Homo sapiens: one gene and its partner. The protein of the gene in region 1 purifies or fractionates together with the protein of each later gene. This does not show direct contact. Each region holds a gene or a part of one and is shown in the gene's direction. Other genes may lie near its edges.

Evidence for each region. The genes of interacting proteins can lie anywhere in the genome.
Region 2: the proteins of OR7C1 (region 1) and YJU2 purify together in Homo sapiens (affinity purification with mass spectrometry; 3 studies listed by BioGRID and IntAct, with this or other methods). This does not show direct contact.

The regions. Positions count from the first base shown.
Region 1 is NC_000019.10:14,832,162-14,839,462, reverse strand, and holds the start of OR7C1 (olfactory receptor 7C1), read left to right. Parts: upstream 1-4,277; 5' UTR 4,278-4,389; intron 4,390-5,370; exon of another isoform or gene 5,371-5,486; intron 5,487-6,151; exon of another isoform or gene 6,152-6,312; intron 6,313-7,301. UniProt on the Homo sapiens protein: Odorant receptor.
Region 2 is NC_000019.10:4,257,055-4,264,091, forward strand, and holds part of YJU2 (splicing factor YJU2), read left to right. Parts: intron 1-1,187; coding exon 1,188-1,369; intron 1,370-4,939; coding exon 4,940-5,060; intron 5,061-7,037.

The DNA.
Region 1 (7,301 bases):
ATTTGAGAGAAGAAGCTCAAGAAAAGTGATGGAATCTCTTTTTTTTTTTTGAGATGGAATCTTGCTGTGTCACCCAGGCTGGAGTGCAGTGGTGCAATCGCGGCTCACTGCAAGCTCCGCCTCCTGGGTTCACGCCTTTCTCCTGCCTCGGCGTCCAGAGTAGCTGGGATGACAGGCACCCGCCACCACGCCTGGCTAATTTTTTTTGTATTTTTAGTACAGATGAGGTTTCACCATGTTAGCCAGGGTAGTCTCGATCTCCTGACCTCATGATCCACCCACCTCAGCCTCCCAAAGTGTTGGGACTACAGGCGTGAGCCACCGTGCCTAGCCAAGTGATGGAATCTCTTACAGCTTCTTCTCAGGCATTGGACATTTCAGGACTATTCACATTTAGCTGAAGTCACATGTCCAAGTTCAGTGTCAACTATTGAAGAGCTATGTTCTCCTTACAATTGAGGCACCCTTAAGACCCAGAGTCCATAGTGGTGATTTACAGTCCTCCTACAGAGAATAGAGGAGTTAATAAATAATTGTAAAAAAAAAAATTATCCTAGAAAGAAACAGACACGCAAGAACTTCATACTTCTGTTGGCAGCAAACATTTGTGAATTACATGCTGTGGAGGTGGAACAAAAAGGATGAGAAAATTTATAGAAATAATTTGATGCAACAAGAAATAGCAGCTTTGCAAATATTCCCAAGAGCAGAACAAGTAAAGTGGATTGAAAGAGTCTAAAAATTCTTGCTGTGGTTATTTGGAGTCAGCATTAGAGGGTCAGAGGCAGGCCCAGGTGCGGTGGCTCACGCTTATAATCCCAGCACTTTGGGAGGCCAAGGCAGGCGGATCACCTGAGATCAGGAGTTCGAGACCAGCCTGGCCAACATAGTGAAACCCCGTCTCTACTAAAAATACAAAAAATTAGCCGGGCGTGGTGGCACAAGCCTGTAATCCCAGCTATTTGGGAGGCGGAGGCAAGAGAATTGCTTGAACCTAGGAGGTGGAGGTTGCAGTGAACCGAGATTGTGCCACTGCACTCCAGCCTGGGCAACAGAGGAAAACTCAGTCTCAAAAAGAATAGGGTCAGAGGCTACATCCTTGAATATAACAAAGCATGGAATGGTGGATTCCCCACATTCTGACCCCTCCTTGAGTCCCTGGGATGAGGTCTCCCTTCAAGATCACAACTAGCTGTATTCCAGGAACAGGAACAGGGTAACACTAGACTCACATCCTCTCGCAAGAGACATTTCTGGTGTCACAGTGAGCTAAGTAAATGCAAAACTGAGACAATAACAATAGCTGCTATTGATCGAACAATTATTCTGTTCCAGTAACTTTCCAAGCATTAAAATATTGCTTACTTTTCACAATAACTTCATAGGATCGATGAAATTTCCAGAACTTATAGATAAGAAATGAAAGTTCTAAAAGTTTCATTTCCTATCATGAGGGATTTACTCAAGAGACACATGTAAACTTGTATATGCAGAAGCTAAATGTGAGTTTGTTTTCTGCTACTATAGCAGAATGCCTGAGACTGGGCAATTTATAATGAACAGAGATGTATTTGGCTAATGGTGAAGTGGCATCGTTTGTCTGGGGAAATACTCAAGGTTCATTGTCCTGCTCTAAGGAAAATGAAGACGCAGATGCACGAGGTGTGGATTTAATAGTGGAAAGTTTAATACATGAAAGAAACAAGAAAAAAGCTCCCTTATGTAGATGGAGGCGGGTTCCAAACAGATCTCCCTGTTGCCCATGGGATTCGGTTGGTTTTATAGAGGGGCTTGAGGAGGTGGGGTCTGATTTACATAGGGCCCAGGGGATTGGTTGGACCAAGTGTGTCATTTACATAGCCTGCAAAGAGGCTGGCCATCCCACCCCAATTGTTTATTATGCAGATGGGGTTTTTACCTGGCCAGTGCCATGACACCATCTTGTCTGCTCCTTACAGTGCACGTGGCTGGCAGAGAAGGGAAGATGGAGCCACCATCTTGAAAACGTCTAGTCCTTAGTTTCTGCCAGCATTCACCCATGCAAACTCCCAGCTTGCTTATCTATGTCTGCAGCTCAACTTTACAGGCTGCTCTTTGTTAGAAAATGATTTGAGGCTGCTTTTCATTAAAAGAGAAAAGCCTTACTGAGGACTCTCATGCCCTTGCTATCTGCCTAAGTAATTCCTTCTTAACTCCTATATCAGGAGGCACCTAGTGGGAGCTAACCGAATCGTGGGGGCAGTTTTCCCCATACTTTTCTCATGGTACTAAATAAGTCTCATGAGAGCTGATGGTTTTATAAGGGGTTTCCCTTTTCACTTGATTCTTATTCTCGCTTTGCCTGCTGCCATGTAAGACATGCCTTTTGCCTTCCACCATGATTGTGAGGCCTCCCCAGCCATGTGGAACTGTGAGTCCAGAGTCCATTAAACCTCTTTCCTTTATAAATTACCAAGTCTTGGGTATGTCTTTATCAGCAGCGTGAAAACGGACTAATACACATGTAGAATCTCTGGACCCCATCCTAGACCTGATAAATTAGAATCCACATTTGAACAAGATCCAGAAGCAATTCATATAAACTTTGAAGCTGGAGATGTTCTGGTCTAGAATAGTGTTTGCAGCTTCCTCCATGTTAACATTTGTGCTGGATTATCATTTGTGGTGGGGGTATCATTTGCATTGTTGGATCTTGAACAGCATTCTCAACCTCAACCCCCAGGTGCCAGTAACATCTTCCTAGTTGTGACAACTAAAGTTTTCTCAGATATTTTCAAGTGTCCTTTGGTGGCAAAATCATCCCTGCTTTTTGTTTCTTTGTTTTTGTTTTTTTGAGATGGAGTTTTGCTCTGTCACCCAGGCTTGAGTAATGTCAGCTCACTGCAACCTCTGCCTCCCGGGTTCAAGTGATTCTCCTGCCTCAGCCTCCTGAGTAGCTGGGACTACAGGCGTATGCCACCATGCCCAGGTAATTTTTACATTTTTAGTAGAGACGGGGTCTCACCGTGTTGGCCAGGCTGGTCTCGAACTCCGGCCTCAGGTTATCTGCCTGCCTTAGCCTCCCAAAGTGCTGGGATTACAAGTGTGAGCCACCACATGCAGCCTCATTCCTGTTTTTAAACTACTGGCCTCAAGCATGAGAACTGAAAACATCATGAAGGAGTTTCAACCATTCATCCCTTTCTTGGTTTATAATGTTGAGCAGATCACTGAATCTTTCTGAGCCCCATTACTGCATACGTAGAATGATGCTCATGACAGTACCGACCACATAAAATAAACATTTATAAACATTAGATAAAATAATCCTTATAAGGTGCCATTCTCAGGACAATGTGCATAAAAGGGTCTAAATATATCTCTTGTAATTGGTACACATTTTATCAATGAAGAACTAAAAGACAGTTCTTAATTTGTCTGACAAGCATTAAATTACAAATTGTTTTGGTGAAAACATCATGAAGCCAAGGAGTACAGCCAAGCCATGATTTATATCAAAGGAACACAGTACTCCCTCTAGTTGAAGAATGAGATGGAAATTTTCAGATGTTGGGCCAGGCACAGTGGCTCACGCCTGTAATCCCAGCACTTTGGGAGGCCAAGGCGGGTGGATGACCTGAGGTCAGGAGTTCGAGACCAGCCTGGCCAACATGACAAAACCCCTTCTCTACTAAAAATATAAAAATTAGCTGGGCATGGGGGTGAGCACCTGTAGTTCCAGCTACTCGGGAGGCTGAGGCAGAAGAATCACTTGAACCCAGGAGGCGGAGGTTGCAGTGAGCTGAGATCACACCACTGCACTCCAGCCTGGGTGACACAGTGAGACTCCGTCTCAAAAAAAAAAGAGAAATTTTCTTATGGTATCAGAGGCTGTATTCCCACAATAAGTCGATGCTTTGGAGATTTAAGGGGAGTAGGCAAGATGGGTTTCTCAGTCTTAGATGTGAAGAAAACTTTGTCTCAGGATTGGGACAGTTGTTACAAAGTTAGACTTCTGGAAGAAAGGAGAGTTCATGTTGAAAGAGTAAGAAAGACTGGTTCATCCAGTCTCTTGGGAACAGAGAATCTGCAGGATTTTTTTTCTTTCTGTGCAAAACAATGTCCCACAGGGACATAATGTACTCAGGGTTTCAAATAACAAGAAGAAATGTGCCTATTGAGCAGATGTGGGAAGCTATAAATATTTCATCTGCTGTTGTCCCTCAGGCACCCCTGGGTTGAATGGAATATCATTGTTTCTTTTGAAGTCCTAAGTCTAGCTCAGAGACAGATGCTTGACTCTTTCCTGCTGCCTAGTCTGCTGAGCAGAGCTTCAGTCTCCACCATCAATCATCCAGTGAGGAATTTGCACTTACACAAGGAACTCTTCCTCGGAGAGATCCCCTCCTGGTGAGTTGGAGAGCCCAGTGGGAACTGCAGGAAAACAATAGATGGAATAGATGCAGAGAATATTTACCTGAGATCACCTGAGAGCCAGTCCAGCCTAGCCCAGAGCCAAGATATTGCTGCGGTTATTTGCTTGGTTGATTAATTAACTAAGTAATGTCTCGTTTTATGATGCAAAAAAAGAAAAGTGAACACTGAACTAGGCAATGCAAGGGTGACGACTATTGACATTTAGTGAAGGTCACAGAAGCCCAATTAGAAGGAATAGGAGGTGTAAAATGATTTTTGTAAAAGTACAACATACATCTTTGTAATTAAGGGGAGTAGAGAAATCGTGTATTGGCTGTGGAGGGATATACAGTCATGTAAAGACATTTCCTTTTTACTTTTAAAATGGAGCATATTTCAGTTTGATTCTATGCCCGTGAGAAAAATCCAGATGAACGGATTGCTTGCAAATACCATTTTGCAACAGCAGTTCATAATGCGTATATTTTGCAGGATTTTCTCTTACGCTAGGTATTCAGATAATACAAAATATTTAATAGGTGAGAGACTATGTACTAATGAGCTGTACTTGCATTTATTTCCTCACTTGCGTGGCTGAATATATTTGTGTGTTGTTTAGGCCTGTGATTTGATGCTTCTAAACAACTCACAGTGTATAGGATAGACTTTATCAAAGAGAGTGATCTAGCCCAGAATATCAATAGTGCTGAGATTGAGAAACACTGTGGCGAGGAATATCTGCTGGCTTCCTGGTTTTTGGAGTTTTGTTGTTTGTTTGTTTTTTCTTTGAGACAGAGCCTCACTCTGTCGTGCAAGCCTCTGTCCATGCTACTACTGGAATGCAGTAGCATGATCTCAGCTCACTGCTGCCTCAACCTCCTTGGCTCCGGTGATCCTCCCACCTCAGTCTCCCAAGTAGCTGGAACTACTGGTGTGCACCACCATGCTAGGCTAATTTTTGTATTTCTTTTGTAGAGATGGAGTTTCACCACGTTGTCCAGGCTGGTCTCGAACTCCTGGGCTCAAGCAATTTACTTGCCTCAGCCTCCCAAAGTGCTAGGATTGCAGACGTGTGCCACCACGCCCAGCCTGTATGTGTTTTTAATATTTTATCTGTCTGGAGATTGTTTCCACAAGACATTATGACACTTATTTCTGTCACCAAAATTAGAGTACCCGTTTGCCATCTGTTTAAAAATTCCAACACAAATCTATGACAGCTGAGAAAGTTCCCCACTCCATCCCCGCTCAGGCTGATGGACGTGAGATTTCTTACTGTTTTCTTAAAATATTACTGACTTTGAGCAAATATTCATATATTTGATCAAGATCTTGATTGCCTTATGTTTACTATATGCCCATTTTTATACAGTTACCAGCGTTTAAAATTATTTTTTTCAATGATTCTTTTTCAGTTGACTTTTGGGGAAATTTATTAGCCATAAAAAGTTTAAAATATTCTTTAGTTAAATATATACCTATCATCTTACTTCTGCAATTATTGCCTTAGTTAAGGTGATTTGCCCACCCACAGATTTCATATGTAGTTTCCCTGTTTTCATGGAAAAGGCATTGTTTACTTTTTTTTTGAGACGGAGTCTCGCCCTGTCAACCAGGATGGAATGCAGTGGTGCGATCTTGGCTCACTGCAACCTTCGCTTCCTGGATCCAAGCGATTCTCCCACCTCAGCCTCCTGAGTAGCTTGGACTGCAGGCAAGTGCCACCATACCCATCTAATTTTTGTATTTTTGGTAGAGATGGCGTTTCGCCATATTGCCCAGGCTGGTCTTGAACTCCCGACCTCAAGTGATCCACCCACCTGGACCTTCCAAACTGCTGGGATTACAGGCATGAGCCACCGTACCTGGCCGATATTGAAGTTTTTAATTCCTCTGACTTTGTGTAAGATGTGTGAGGTAGGTGACCAATTTTATTTATTCCAGACAAATAGCTGTTTATGACAGCATTTATTTAAATATCCAATCCTTTCTAACTAAATTGAAATACAAGCTTGCTGTATATTAAATGCCCATGTATACTGAGAACAAAGTCCTGATTCATTCAGCAAATAATAACTGAGCATCTGCTCTGTGCAAGAGTTTTTTATGAACAGTGTATGCCATATTCTTTTATATCTAGATTTTTGCCAATTTATTAATTTATGTTGATATGATTAAATTATTATTATAGCATGTCAGTTAATTTTCAATACTTCAACAATTTTATTCACTACAGTTGATTATATTTAACCTGGTTTTATTCTCCTGCCATTCTTTCTAATTTTATAATTCTTTTTTTAATAATGCATACATCGTCACATCTTTTTATGAAAATATGAAGGTAGCCAGGCACTGTGGCTCAGGCCTGTAATCCCAACACTTTGGGAGGCCGAGGTGGGTGGATCACGGGGTCAGGAGATCGAGACCATCCTGGCCAACATGGTGAAACCCCGACTCTATTAAAAATACAAAAATTAGCCAGGTGTTGTGGCTCATGACTGTAATCCCAGCTACTTGGGAGGTTGAGGCAGGAGAATCGCTTGAACCCAGGAGGCGGAGGTTGCCAGTCAGCCGAGATCGCGCCACTGCACTCCAGCCTGGTGACAGAGCAAGGCTCCATTAAAAAAAAAAAAGAAAAGAAAAAAGAAAGAAAGAGAGAGAGAAGGAAGGAAGGGAGGGAGGGAGGGAAGGAGGGAAAAAAATACATAAGTGAACATCCATGGTAACATCCCTGCTCATTTTGACCTTGTGCTATAATGGTGAAAATACAGTAGAATTAAATAAAGGTGCATGATGCAATGTCATAAGGTGTAAATCAAATAAAGAATATTTCTTAGTGTAAAATAATAGAATTGTCAGGCCAAGCGAGGTGACTCATGCCTATAATTCCAGCACTTTGGGAGGCC
Region 2 (7,037 bases), about 11 Mb from region 1:
AAAGGGTAAATACAACAAGGTCACAGCACTGGGAAGCAGCCAGGCAGGATTCACTCCCAACCTGCCTGGCTCCAAAGCCACTTCTCAGGGACCCGTGGCCACCAGACTCGCCTCCCTCAGCCTCAGTTTCCGTTTCTGTAAAATGGGGGTTGTGAGGATTAAATGAGATGGCATATGGAAACCTCTTAGCCCAGGGCCCGGTGTACAGTAGGTGCTCAGGTTGTCTTTTACAATTTTTCCTTAATATTATTATTTTTGAGATAGAGTCTCGCTCTGTCACCCAAGCTGGAATGCATTGGCACGATCTGAGCTCAGTCAACCTCTGCCTCCTGGGTTCAAGTGATTCTCCTGCCTCAGCCTCCCAAGTAGCTGGGATTACAGGTGTGTGCCACCACGCCTGGATAATTTTTGTATTTTTATTATTTATTTATTTTTTTGAGATGGAGTCTCACTCTGTCACCCAGGTTGGAGTCCAGTGGTGCAATCTTGGTTCACTGCAACCTCTGCCTCCCGGGTTCAAGCAATTCTCCTGCCTCAGCCTCCCAAGTAGCTGGGATTACAGGCACATGCCACTACGCCCAGCTACTTTTTGTATTTTTAGTAGAGATGGGGTTTCGTCATGTTGGCCAGGCTGGTCTTGAACTCCTGACCTCAAGTGATCTGTCTGCCTCGGCCTCCCAAAGTGCTGGGATTACAGGCGTGACCCATAACACCCAGCCTGTATTTTTAGTAGAGACAGGGTTTCACCATGTTGGCCAGGCTGGTCTCGAACTCCTGATCTCAGGTGATCCGCCCGCTCCGGCCTCCCAAAATGCTGGGATTACAGACGTGAGCCACTGTGCCTGGCCAAATTTTTCCTTATTATTCTTACTGAAAGATGGCACCAGGCCAGAAATCCAGGCCACCTGGGTCCAGAGCCAGCCTCTTTCCACCCCACCCTGCCCCAGGGCTCAGATCCCGGCTCCACCACTGCTCAGCCCCATGTGGTCACTTTCCCTCCCCAGACCTGAGTGTTCTCACCTGTGAAATGGACACAGCGCTGGGCATGGGCAGGGGGTTCCCTGAGCAGGATGGAAACGTGGGGGTAGGGGTTCCTCCCGTGGCCCGCAGTGGCCCCCGAGGCCAGACAGGGTTTGCCCCGTGGTGCGATCCCCATGCACTCAGCCCCGCCGCCCCGCGCCCGCCAGGTGCTGGAGAACCGGACCAAGGACTCCAAGCTGGAGATGGAGGTGCTGGAGAACCTCCAGGAGCTGAAAGACCTGAACCAGCGGCAGGCGCACGTGGACTTCGAGGCTATGCTGAGGCAGCACCGCCTGTCGGAGGAGGAGCGGCGGAGGCAGCAGCAGGAGGAGGACGAGCAGGAGACCGCGTGAGTCAGGGCCGGCCCAACCCAGCCCCACCTCGCAGCCTCTGCCCCGGCAGGCGCTGCCTCTGCCCCAGACCCTTTCCCCGCTCTCTGGAGTGTCGCCTTTGCAAGGACCCCTTTCCCACCGCCCATCTCACTTTCTCCCTTGTGGCGTCTCTCGAGGGGGTCCCAGGCCACTGCCGGGCACGGTGACTTAGCACGTGGTCGCCCGCATGGCTGCGGTTTGTCACAGCGAGAGGACACAGCAGATTCAGCAAAGGGGAAAGGCATGTGTGGTGTGTCGGGGGCCAGGCCTTCCAGATCCTCTCCTGGTGGAGCTTCGCAGGACGCGCCTCATCCCCTAGCACCAGCCTGGAGGACTCGAGAAAGGCGCCATCACTAGGGAAGCTCCTAGAGACCCAGCGTGGGGTTCCTATGGGGCCTGGTCCCACAGCCCCCGCTGCCTCACCCATGCCGGGATTCCAGACTCCAGAGGAAAGCAGGGGTCACGCATAAACCATGGTGTTTGCAGGAACAGCTGAAGCCCCAGAGCCCGTCCCATCCATGAGGGTGGGAGGCCCCCAGCACAGGCTCCCGGACACCCACCAAGGGACGCCCTCACCAGCCGCCTTCTGAGGACACAGCCTCAGGCCTCCTGGGTGAACACTTTTCTTTTTTTTTTTTTTTTTTTTTTTTTTTTTGAGACGGAGTCTCCCTCTGCTGCCCAGGCTGGAGGGCAGTGGCGCCATCTCGCTCACTGCAAGCTCCGCCTCCCGGGTTCATGCCATTCTGCCTCAGCCTCCCGAGTAGCTGGGATTAGAGGCATCCGCCACCAAGCCCGGCTAATTTTTTGTAATTTTTAGTAGAGATGGGGTTTCACCGTGTTAGCCAGGATGGTCTCGATCTCCTGACCTCGTGATCCGCCCGCCTCGGCCTCCCAAAGTGCTGGGATTGCAGGCGTGAGCCACCGCGCCCGGACGACGCTTTTCTTTTTCTTTGAGACGGGGTTTTGCTCTGCCGCCCAGGCTGGAGTGCAGTAGTGCAGTCATAGCTCACTGTAGCCTCCATCTCCCGGGCTCAAGCGTTCCTCCTGCCTCAGCCTTCTGGGTAGCTGGGACCACAGGGACACATCACCATGCCCAGCTAATTGTTTTTATTTCTGTAGAGACAGGACCTCGCTATGTTGGACAGGCTGGTTTTGAACTCCTGGCCTCAAGCGATCCTCCCACCTTAGTCTCCTGAAGTGCTGGATGACACGTGTGAGCCCCTGTGGTTGGCTGGTGAATGCCTTTGACGCCGACCACCTCTGAGCCCGCGTGCTGATCCCCTCCTTTCCTGGTGCCTCATCTCCCCTCCCTCCTTTAGAATCTGAGCTGTAAGGACAGGGACGTGGTGGCCTCTCCTGTGTCCCCAGGGCTTCCAGCAGGTAGGTTCTGGTAGGTTCCACGTCAGTGCCTGATGGGTGTGCAGAGCAGCGATACCGTGCAGAACAGTGTTGGGAGCCTGCGTTCATCCTGCACCTTCCGGGTGCCGGGCGTGGCTGTAACCTCACTACCCACACAGCCCTGGGGGTCAGTGTGATCTTCATCATGGAGGGGACTGAGGTCCAGGGAGGTCCAGGCATGAGCCCCACCAAGGTTACCCTCCAGGCTCCATCCAGACAGGCTGGTTCCGGCATCCAGGCACTTAACCACACCACTGCCCTCGGTGGACACGGAAAAGTTAATGTAAAAAAGTAGAAGGGGCCGGGCGCAGGGTCTCCTGCCTGCCATCCTGCACTGTGGGAGGCTGAGGCGGGCGGATCACCTGAGGTCAGCAGTTCGAGACCAGCCTGGCCAACATGGCGAAACCCCATCTGTACTAAAAATACAAAAACAAATTAGCTGGGCGTGGTGGCAGATGCCTGTAATTCCAGCTGCTCCAGAGGCTGAGACAGGAGAATTGCCTGAACCCGGGAGGCAGAGGTTATAGTGAGCCGAGATGGTGCCACTGAACTCCAGCCTGGGCGACAGAGCAAGATTCCTCCTAAAAAAAATGAAAATTAAAAAGTAGACTAGGTGCGGTCGGTGGCTCACGCCCGTAATCCCAGCACTTTGGGAGGCTGAAGTGGGCGTATCACCTGAGGTCAGGAGTTCGAGACCAGCCTGGCCAAGATGGTGAAACCCCGTCTCTACTAAAACTACAGAAATTAGCTGGACATGGTGGTATGTGCCTGTAGTCCTAGCTAACATTTTTAATTTTTTTAGAGACGGGGTCTCGCTATGTTGCCCAGGCTGGTCTCTAACCCCTGGCTCAAGCGATCCTCCCGTCTCAGCGTCCCAAAGAGCTGGGATGACAGGCATGAGCCACTGCATCTGGCCCCTTTAATCTGTTTTATGTTTAAATAGAGGAAGTGGTAACCACTGGGTTAAGGAAGTCCCAATGGGTGCTCTGCCCTCACGGAGCTCACTGTGTGGGGAGGGAGAGGGACAAGGAGACCAATACCCAGGACAACATCCATCTGGGTGAGAGAGAAGCCAGGATGCGTGAGCTTGAATTATGAGGATGAGCTTCTCAGAGGAAGAGCGTCTTGCATTGGGTATTGAAGGTCGAGTAGGAGTTCACCAAGCGAGTGCTTGGCAAAGGGGTCATCCCAGGTAAGGGGATGTAGGCCCCTGATTTTTAAAATCCTTTTTGCAGAGATGCGGTCTTGCTGTGTTGCCCAGGCTGGTCTCATGCTCCTGGCCTTAAGCATTTCTCCTGCCTTGGCCTCTAAAGGCACAGGGATTACAGACATCAGCCACCATGTCTGGCCCCAAGACATTTTTCTAAAAGACATTTTCTTTGAAGCTATATCCCCTGATTAGAGTTCTCACACTGTGGTTCTCACATAAACCACTCCCAGAATTAGAGACCGGCCTGGCCAAGATGGCGAAACCCCGCCTCTACTAAAAATACAAAAATTAGCTGGACACGGTGGTGCGTGCCTGTAGTCCTAGCTGCTCGGTAGGCTGAGGCTGGAGAATCGCTTGAACCCAGGAGGCGGAGGTTGCAGTGAGCCAAGATCACGCCACTGCACTCCAGCCTGGACAACAAAGACTCCATCTCAAAAAAGAAAAAAAAAATACAAAAATTAGCCGGGTGTGGTGGCAGGCACCTGTAATCCCAGGTACTTGGGAAGCTGAGGCAGGAGAATCGCTTCAACCTGGGAGGTGGGGGTTGCAGTGAGCCAAGATTGCGCCACTGCACTCCAGCCTGGGCAACAGAGCGAGACTCTGTCTCAAAAATAAAATGAAATAAAATTTAATAAGGCATAGGAACACGCCTGTGGACCCAGCTACTCAGGAAGCTGAGTGGGGAGGATCGCTTGAGCCCAGGAGGTTGAGGTTGCAGTGAGCTGTGATTGTGCCACTTCACCCTCCCTGAGTGACAGAGTGAGACCTTGTCTCTTAAAAAAAAAAAGTAATCTGTGCTCCCCCTACTCCCTCCCACCCCTGCTCACTGAGGGCAGGAAGAGGTCTCCAGGCACCCAGGCCCCTCGCCACCCCAGCAGGTACATCCCAGGCACTGTTCCCCAAACAGAGCACGTCCAAGTTCCCATCTTCCATCCCACAGGGCCCTGTTGGAGGAAGCCAGAAAGCGAAGACTGCTGGAGGACTCCGACTCAGAGGATGAGGCTGCTCCCTCGCCCCTGCAGCCAGCCCTTCGGCCCAACCCCACCGCCATCCTGGATGAGGTAAGTGGGGTGCCTGAGTCCTGGGGGCTCCCAGGTGAACTAGGGACAACTGAAGCCAGGGGTCAGCTTGACTTTTTCTTTTGTTTTTTGTTTTTGTTTTTTGAGACGGAGTCTCGCTCTGTCGCCTAGGCTGGAGTGCAGTGGCACGATCTTGGCTCACTGCAACCTCTGCCTCCCAGGTTCAAGCGATTCTCCTGCCTCAGCCTCCCGAGTAGCTGGGACTACAGGCACGCGCCACCAAGCCCAGCTAATTTTTTGTATTTTTAGTAGAGATGGGGTTTCACCATGTTGGGAAGGATGGTCTCAATCTCTTCACCTCGTGATCCGCCCGCCTAGGCCTCCCAAAGTGCTGGGATTACAGGCGTGAGCCACCATGCCCGACCAGAACTTGACTTTTTCTTAAAAGGCCAGTCTGCACCCTAACTCCTCCACCCTGTGGCTGTAGCCCAAAACACCCATGATCAGGTGTAAATAAGTGGGTGTTGCCTGGTGCCAATAAATCTTTATTTATAGGCGGGGTGCAGTGGCTCATGCCTGTAATCCCAGCATTTTGGGAGGCCAAGGCAGGAGGATCGCTTGAGGCCGGGAGTTTGAGACCAGCCTGGGCAACAAAGTGAGACCCCTTCTTTACAAAATTACAAAAATTAGTCATGGGTGGTGGTGCATGTCTGTGGTCCCAGCTGTTTGAGAGACTGAGGCAGGAGGACCGCTTGAGCCCAGAAGGTCAAGGCTGCAGTGAGCTGCATCAGTATGACCGAACTCCAGCCTGAGCAAGAGTGAGACCCTGTCTAAAATAAACAAATAAAAATTAAGGCTGAGTGCAGTGGCTCACGCTTGTAATCCCAGCTACTCAGAAGGCTGAGGCAGGAGAATCGCTTGAACCCGGGAGGCGGAGGTTGCAGCGAGCCGAGATCGTGCCACTGCACCCCAGCCTGGGTGACAGAATGAGACTCTGTCTCAAAAAAAAAAAAAAAAAAACTTAATTTACTAAAACTGGTGGCAGGCCTATGGGTCTGTAATTCGCCAACCCCTGTTTAAGCTGCCGAAAGAAGAGAATGTAAAGAAAGAACATAGAAATTTATTTCTCAGTCATAACAGCCCTGGGCTGACAGTCTAGGACTTCGGGCAGCTCTGCTCCTTGGAACCATTCAGGGACTCAGCCTCCTTCCTTCTGGAGCACGGCTTCCTGCGCTGTGGCCACAGCTGGCTCAGAGCACCTTCAGGGTCCGGCTGTGGGAAGGCAAAAAGTGTGTGGAGGACCACGCAGCCTCAGATGCGGCCCACCTCAGTTCTTCTCTCATGCCAGAGGCCACAGCATAGTCACAAGGCCCCATCTGGTGGCGAAGGAAACTGTGAGATGCATCCTCCAGCTGGTCCGTGCCTGGCTGTGCTGCCAACTAGAACGAAGGGAGGCCGGGCACCGTGGCTCAAAGTGCTGTAATCCCAGCACTTTGGGAGGCCGAGGCAGGCGGATCATCTGAGGTCAGGAGTTCGAGACCAGCCTGGCCAACATGGAGAAACCCTGTCTCTACTAAAAATACAAAAATTAGCTGGACATGGCGGTGCCTGCCTGTAATCCCAGTTACTCGGGAGGCTGAGGCAGGAGAATCACTTGAACCTGGGAGGCAGAGGTTGCAGTGAGCTGAGATTGTGCCATTGCCCTCCAGCCTGGGCAACAGAGTGAGACTCTATCTCAAAAAAAAAAAAAAAAAAAAGGAGGAAGGAGTTTTGGTGGATGACCAGCATTTTCCACCACAGCTGACTCATCCAAGGTGGCCTCAGCCACTCTGGTTTGTTCATTGAAGAAGGTGGTAAAAGTAGGGGCTCATAAACCAATAACACAGACACACAGAAACGATTGTTCTCGGCCGGGCGCGGTGGCTCACACCTGTAATCCCAGCACTTTGGGAGGCCAAGGCGGGTGGATCACGAGGTCAGGAGATCGAGATCATCCTATCTAACACGGTGAAACCCCAT